2 linked regions of the Homo sapiens genome follow. The protein of the gene in region 1 interacts with the protein of each later gene in a pairwise test. Each region holds a gene or a part of one and is shown in the gene's direction. Other genes may lie near its edges.

Region 1 (3,626 bases):
CCTGGCTGTCTAGGGATGGTGCTTCCTAGGTCATGCTGATACATACCAAAGTTTGGGAACCCCTGCCCTGTGCACACCACTCCTCACTCCTAGGCCACAGAAAGTTCTAGGGTGTCTGCAGGGACAGATTCGTAGTTTATAGTTTATCCTGAAAACCTGGGGGCCTCCGTGGGTCTACTTCAGGCTGATTCTGTCATCTGGATGTGACAGTGCCAGGCTCTGGGAGGGACAACATTGGTTGAGTGCTTGCCATGTGTAAGGCACCATAGTAGAAAAGATAATGTGGTCCCTACCCACAGGAAAGTCACCGTCTAATAGAGAACTGTCTAATAGAGAATCTGCACAGTGAGCAGGTGAACACTAAACATCACAACTTGAGGGGTGAAAGACCACCTGTCTATGCCCTTCTCTTTAAAGATCAGAGAACTGAGGCCTGGTTGGAGAAGTGAGCCAGCCAAGATCCTCCTGCAGATGGGCCTTGGAAGGCAGATGCTATCTTTTGGCTGCACTACCCTGTGAAATAAAAGAAGGTTCTCTTATAATAGGTGTAAGAAAGTCCACTTTTTGGAGTTGGGCAACATTTTCAAAATTCTTCTGTCGATTTGCACTTTAAGAGTCCACACCTGGGCACGGTGGCTCACATCTGTAATCCCAGCACGTTGGGAGACAGAGGTGGGAGGGTCATTTGAGGCCAGGAGTTAGAGGACAGCCTGGGCAACATAGCAAGATCCCATCTCTATTTTTGTTTAAATAATAACAAAGGAAAATCAAAGAATCCTCATCTTTCACCAAGAGGGTTAAGGCAATTCTCACAAAGGAGATGGATGAGAACTAGAAGCAGCAGGCAGGTGCATGTGATTTGTAGGGGATGCTTGTAGTGAGGCCTGTCTGTTCTGCCTGCTCCTCTGGCACAAATTACCCCCAGCAGCTCCTTATATTAAGTCAAGCCATATGATCTAATCCAAACCACAGAATGGCCAGGTGAGGGAGGGGGAGGCTGCGTGGCCCATGGTCACTGTAAGGTGGGCCCCTGCTGCAGTTTGACACCCACAGGACCCTGAGCTCCCTGGGGCAGCACCAGTAGGCTTGCCCCCTGCCTCCTGCCAGCCTCACCTGCCACCTTCTGCCCCTCTCGGGATGCCTTTGCAGACAGAGCTCTTCGCTGCCTGTGGTGGCCACTCTTTGCTTTTGGTTCTCTTGCCCCTTGGCCTCCCTTTTTGTCCCCGGGCAGCCTTGTGTGACCTGCCCTTTTCCCTCCCTTCCTTTCCAGGACAAGCACGCCGAGGAGGTGCGGAAAAACAAGGAGCTGAAGGAAGAGGCCTCCAGGTAAAGCCTAGAGGCCAAAGAACTTTCCAGGTCAGCCGGACAGCTCCAGCAGCTCCACGTTCCAGGCAGCCTCGCCCGCCGGCTGCGCTCCCAGCACTGGGGTTTGGGGGGAGGGGGGTGGCCAAGGGGCGTTTCCTCTGCTTTTGGTGTTTGTACATGTTAAGAATTGACCAGTGAAGCCATCCTATTTGTTTCCGGGGAACAATGACGGGGTGGGAGAGGGGAGAGGAGAGAGTTTGGGAAAGGGAGATGGAGAAGAACTCAAGGACATTGCAACCCTGCCCGGCGCAGATCTGATTTTCACATCTCTACCTGGACATTGAGCCTCCAGGCACCATGTTGAGGAGAGATGAAAACCAGGGCGGTAGAACTTCAGGGTGAAGGACAGAGTCCTGGGTGGGGCAGCGGCTGCAGGGCGCACCAGAGAACCCAGCCAGAGGGGTTGTGAGTACCAGTGGTGTTGCTTCCACCCTGCAGCAGGTGGGATGAGGTCTGTGTGTGTGTGTGAACCATCATTTTTTGATCATCATGACCAATGAAACATTGACTCCAAGTGTCCAGTTCTTTATTTCCCAAATGTGTCCTTTGGGTAATTGTTAAAAAGTTCTCGAAACCTGGCTTTCATCCATCTGATGGCAGATGCCCCTTTGCTTCCTTAATTCTGCCATTCAAGCATCTGGAGCCTGGGTGAGGTGGGTTGAATCAGGCCAGCCTTTGGCATAATTGAAAGGTTTTCTCTTCTGTTTTTTAAAATCCCCTCTGTGGGCTAATCTTTATTGGATAGCATGCACTAAATTGATGAGAAAAGAAACTCAATCTTCCTTTCAATGAACTGACATCCTAATATGGTCCCCAAGATGCACTGTAAGAAGGAATTTGTCTTAGTCACAACCGTTCAGACTGCTGTAACAAAATACCTTAGACTAAGTAATTGATAACAGAAATTGATTGCTCACAGTTTTGGAGGCTGGGAAGTCCAATATCAAGGTGCCAGCAGATTCAGTGTCTGGTGAGGGCTTGCCATCTGCTTCAAAGATGATGCCTTTTTGCTGCATCCTCACATGGCAGAAGGGAAGGGCAAAAGGGCTTCCTTGAGCCTTTTCTTTAAGGCACTAATCCCATTCATGAAGGTGGAGTCCTCATGATCTCACCTCTTAAGGCCCTATCTCTTAATTCTGTAGTGTCGGGATTAGGATTCAACCTGTATATTGGGGGAGACAGCAACATTCACACCATAGCAGAAGTCCTCCATGCTTTGGGGGTTTGAGATTCTAGGTAGATTAGAAAATACGAGCAAGGAAATAAAGTGTTTGCTAGTAGAAGGCAAAGGAGGCATCCAGACCCAGCAGTCTTGGTCTCCAGGACACTGAACCATGGCTGGAAAAGAAGCTCTCCTCCTCCCTTCCCCTGCAAACATGAGTGCAGGGGCTGCCTGTGTTAACCGGGTCCCAGGACCTCTTCCCACTCTGCTCTGCACACTGTGTAGTTTTTTACAGCTTTGCAAATAAACCCTTTGGTATAGCCTTTTTTTCTTTCTTCTCACTAGTGGTACTGTAATTTGGCTTTATTTTAAAATAAGATAACAGGAGGATCAAAGATGATGATGATGATGATGATGATGATGATGATGATGATGGCAGCAGCTAACTTAGGCAGCACTTACTAGATGTCCTACACTTTTCTGTACTTTTACATCTATATTATCTCACTTATCTTCACACCACCTGTAGGAGGTAGGTACTCTTATCATCCCATTTTGTAGACAAAAGAATTGAGGTCTAGAAAGGGTAAGTAACTTGGCAAGGTCACACAGGGAGTAAATGGGAGAACAGGGACTTGAATTGGGCGGTTTGCTCCCAGAGTCCATATTCTTAGCCACTGGAGTGTGCTGCTTCTTGACACCTCCAAACTAGCATCTGAGTCCCAGAATAGGGTTTCTCAAGCTGTGAGTGGTGACTCACTGGATCTTGAGATCAACGTAGTGGATCCCACCCAACCTTTCTTTTCTTTTTTAAGTGGATTAGAATAGAAAAACAAAACATCAAAATGGGTGACAGGTGATAATGGAGGCATTATTTCATGGAAATTGTGTTTCAATTTTATATTTTGTGTATATATGTGTTGATCGCAGCATAAAGTGCATTTCTTATGGGGGGTGGCAGTCAAAACCCTTTGAAGGTTACTGCCTTAGAATCAACATGGAGACAGAGCCAGGACATCCAGGCTGCAGCCCAGGAGGCTTTAGGAAGCTGCTGTGGTTGAGAAAGCAAGAGAGGCTGTGGCCTTTCCATCAAGAATCA
Region 2 (3,827 bases), on another chromosome or scaffold:
AGTGAATATAAATACTAATTATAGATTATATGTTTTGGTTTTTGTTGTGTCAGTATTTTAATAGTCAGTGTAAAACACTTCCTCACTTTCAGCCAAAACCTTCAAGGAATAGAAGATAAAATCACAAAAATGAAGGTTACTATGGTAGCTTGGGATCGACATGACAATACAGTTATAACTGCAGTTAATAACATGACTCTGAAAGTTTGGAATTCTTACACTGGTCAACTAATTCATGTCCTGATGGTGAGAAAAAATTCTAATCTTTATTTGATATAACTGAAGCTGACTATAGAATGAAACATTCTCATTGAGGAATAAAGTCTTTTATGTTAGCTAAAAACTCTTGCTTGCTGGGGTAACGGCTTTGTGAGTGATTGGGAATAATTTTAACAGTGCAGTTAAACAGGTTTGGCTTGGAAATATATAGTAGATATTTGCTGTTTTTTTAATATGAAAAGATCCATCCACCAAGCCCTGGACAATGATATTAGCTCAGTTTCATTATTATATATACATGACAAATTTGAAGATTTTTGCCAATTTAATACTTCTTAAAACTCCATTTCTAGAAATAGTGCCATATTGGTATTTCATTATGTTTGTTTTTCTTTCTTTTTTAATATCTATGATTCTTTGACACTTCAAAAATATTTCAGGGTCATGAAGATGAGGTATTTGTTCTTGAACCACACCCGTTCGATCCTAGAGTTCTCTTTTCTGCTGGTCATGATGGAAACGTGATAGTGTGGGATCTGGCAAGAGGAGTCAAAATACGATCTTATTTCAATATGGTAATTATCATTCTCTTCATTTTATACCTACTAAAGATTTGGGAGCTTTTTGACAAAGGTACTCTGCATGTCACAAAGGAAATCCATTTAAAAATTGGTTCATTATTTTGACTTTAAATTCCCATCAATAAAGAATGATTTATTCCACACTTTTATTGACATGCTGAATTTAAAAGAAAATTAATTGTGCATATTACAGTGCCTGTACATTGTGATAACTGATACAGTTTTATCAGTTTTAGCAGTGAAACTTTGGAAATTCACAAGTATGAAGATACAATATAGAGAAGAAAAAATACTTGGAAAACCATGTGAAGAAATTATAAATAAATACTCGTATTATTGTACTTGTTTAATAGTCTTCTAGCACAATAGAATTTTACTCAAGTACACTGATTTTAAAATTAAGGCCAAAGAATCAAGCATTTCTTGCTTTTAATCAATTGGTAGTATATTAAATATTTGAGTTTATACTCTTCTCTTCACATTTTGTTTCTTAGATGTTAACATAATTGGCCAAGTATTTGAATTACAATGTTTTAATATATCACATACAACTTACCGAGCAGTGTTTCTATTTACTGTATGAAGTATTAAGGTCTCCTCAACTACTGCAGTTTGTGTAGTCATATTTTTTAAATGTCTACTTTCTGTATATTAGAGATACCTTTCAACAAAGAACAAAAGAAAAAACAGTTTCCACTATTTCAGCATGTTTAAATTTTTTTAAAAAACCAATTATAGAAATCTTTAGTAATGAACCATAAAACAATACAATTAGTACATGTGGTCAGAATTATTTTGCCAAATAAATTATTTCACAAAACAGTTGTGAAACATGGTTTGTGAAAAAATTACACGAATGTGATGCTATGCTTGATTGATAATCAGAGTAAAGTTATTTCTATGTCGTGAGTAAGCAGATATAATAGCAGATTTTTTAGTGAGGGAAATAGCTTTAGCTATCTTTAAGGCTGTGCCTTAGAATACATTAGGTAAGAAATAAGGTTTGTAAAACCCTCTATTTCTAGAAAACAGTGTTAATTATTTGGTGTGCACTTGTTAGTGATGGATGGATTTCCTTTGTGATTGTATTGAGATTTTTTTAAAAAGCCACCTGTAAATATGCTAGTAAAAAATATTTTCTGCTTTTCTATCCTTGTGTTTCTGATTTGCTCCTTTTTGGAATATCTGTTGAATAAGGAAATTAGTCATTTCTCAATCTGTCTTTATAGCTTAAAAAAAATAATATGTGAGCTATATATATACTAGTGGCTTCATTTAGTAGTTTTGTATTTCCAAAGGACATTATTATATTGGTAGAGTGTTTGGAGGGAAACTTTTCTCCCATAATTGAATACCGCTTTAACTTTTCAGTTATATAAAGGTGAATTTTCCCTTATCAGGTAAGTTGGTCACACTAATATTCTACCTTTTCAGTAGATAACAAAAACTGCAGCACCTTGAGAGTTAAGTGATTTGCTCTTAGACCATTAAAAATTAGTAATGTAACCAGGAGTAGAAGTCAGCCATAATATATTGTATATTTTTAAAAATTAGCTGAGGGATTGGTTACATTACTGCCTTAAAAATTGTTTATTGTTAAATAAGAGTGTTAGATGAGGATATTTTTCTGGTTCTTTTTATGGATAAGAGATAGGAAAACTCTAAAGAGCAGAAGAAACAAATACATGTAATAAGTTGAATTGGATAGTATTCATAGAATTGCAGACAGTGAGCAAAACATAAACCAAAAAAGCTAAAAAACAGAAAGTGAGCCACCCTTCATCTCATTAAAATAAAGATACTACCTTTAATTTTTTGTATGATGTTTAATGGTTTCCAAAATGCTCCCACATATTTTACCTCCTTTGGGTCTCATGAAAACCTTGTAAGATGATCAAGATAGATTTTATTATTCTTGGTCTTAGGAATGGAGAAACTGTACATTACAGAGATAAAGTGCTTTGCCCCAATTTACTGAGTTCACACAGCTATTATGCGGGCACTTGGAGCATAAACCCATGACTCTGGTTGTACTCAAATCTTGTCATGGTTGGCTTTTTGAGCTTTTGTCAATGTTACTGCATAGCTAACTTTTAACAATACTCAGTTAGTGATATGTCTATGAAGAAATGTTTTCATAATGGTAATAAATCTGAGTGGATCTTTTGACATCTTACTCTTTAACTTGATTTTTTTTCCTGTCTGTCTTTTATGAGTTATCTAATTGCCCTAATTCTTTTTGCTCTTCACTCTTTTGTTCTTTTCATTGCTTGTTTTATTTATGGGCAAATGGAAGATAAAGCATCCAGCATTGCTATTAAGAAAATAAAGAGAAACAATTCGAGGGAGGGCCTGCGTTCTCACTGCTTGCTATCATGAATGTTGAGTTTTGGCTATAATTATAGCTATTTGGCTCTCTGTAGCTAATCAATAAGTTTTTCAGTTACTAAAATACCACGATACTTGATTGCATACAAATTTAATCCCTAATGTTAAGTTGTAGTAGTAATCACAAGTTCAGTTTAGTAAATATTTTTTGAGCACCATGTGAAGGGTCTAGTCATATATAGTGCTTTGGTCTATTAGAGGATGAAGAATTCTGGTGGAATACTCCTTTTTTGACTAGAAATGGTGAAAGTTATGTGAAGTATTTTTAAGATTAAATAATATTTCATGTGACTGTTAAAACTGAAGTTTATAAAACAGATAAGTAAACTCACCATTCCACCTACAGCTAGAAAATAAGGAATGTAGACTATACCTTTAGAATAACAGTTTTAGTACAAATTTCTTAAATACTGGTTTTTATCAAGTATATTTTAAGAATACTTTAATATTTCTCCTGCTTTTTGAATAATAATTGAATTTTCCATTGGAAATTTATACCTTTGCAAAAGATAATGGAAATCATGTAACATATAATTTAGTATTTTGTATTCATCAGCATTTTACTGCATTTTTTGTGTAATTATGGAAATGTAAATTCTTTTTTTGAAATTTTAGAAATAGCCAAAAATCCTGTTATGT

What was found.
Region 2: the proteins of STMN4 (region 1) and PHIP interact in a two-hybrid assay, tested with the Homo sapiens proteins (one large-scale study listed by BioGRID and IntAct).

What each region holds. Positions count from the first base shown.
Region 1 is NC_000008.11:27,234,550-27,238,175, reverse strand, and holds the end of STMN4 (stathmin-4), read left to right. Parts: intron 1-1,270; coding exon 1,271-1,330; 3' UTR 1,331-2,868; downstream 2,869-3,626. UniProt on the Homo sapiens protein: Exhibits microtubule-destabilizing activity.
Region 2 is NC_000006.12:79,012,049-79,015,875, reverse strand, and holds part of PHIP (PH-interacting protein), read left to right. Parts: intron 1-92; coding exon 93-246; intron 247-659; coding exon 660-794; intron 795-3,827.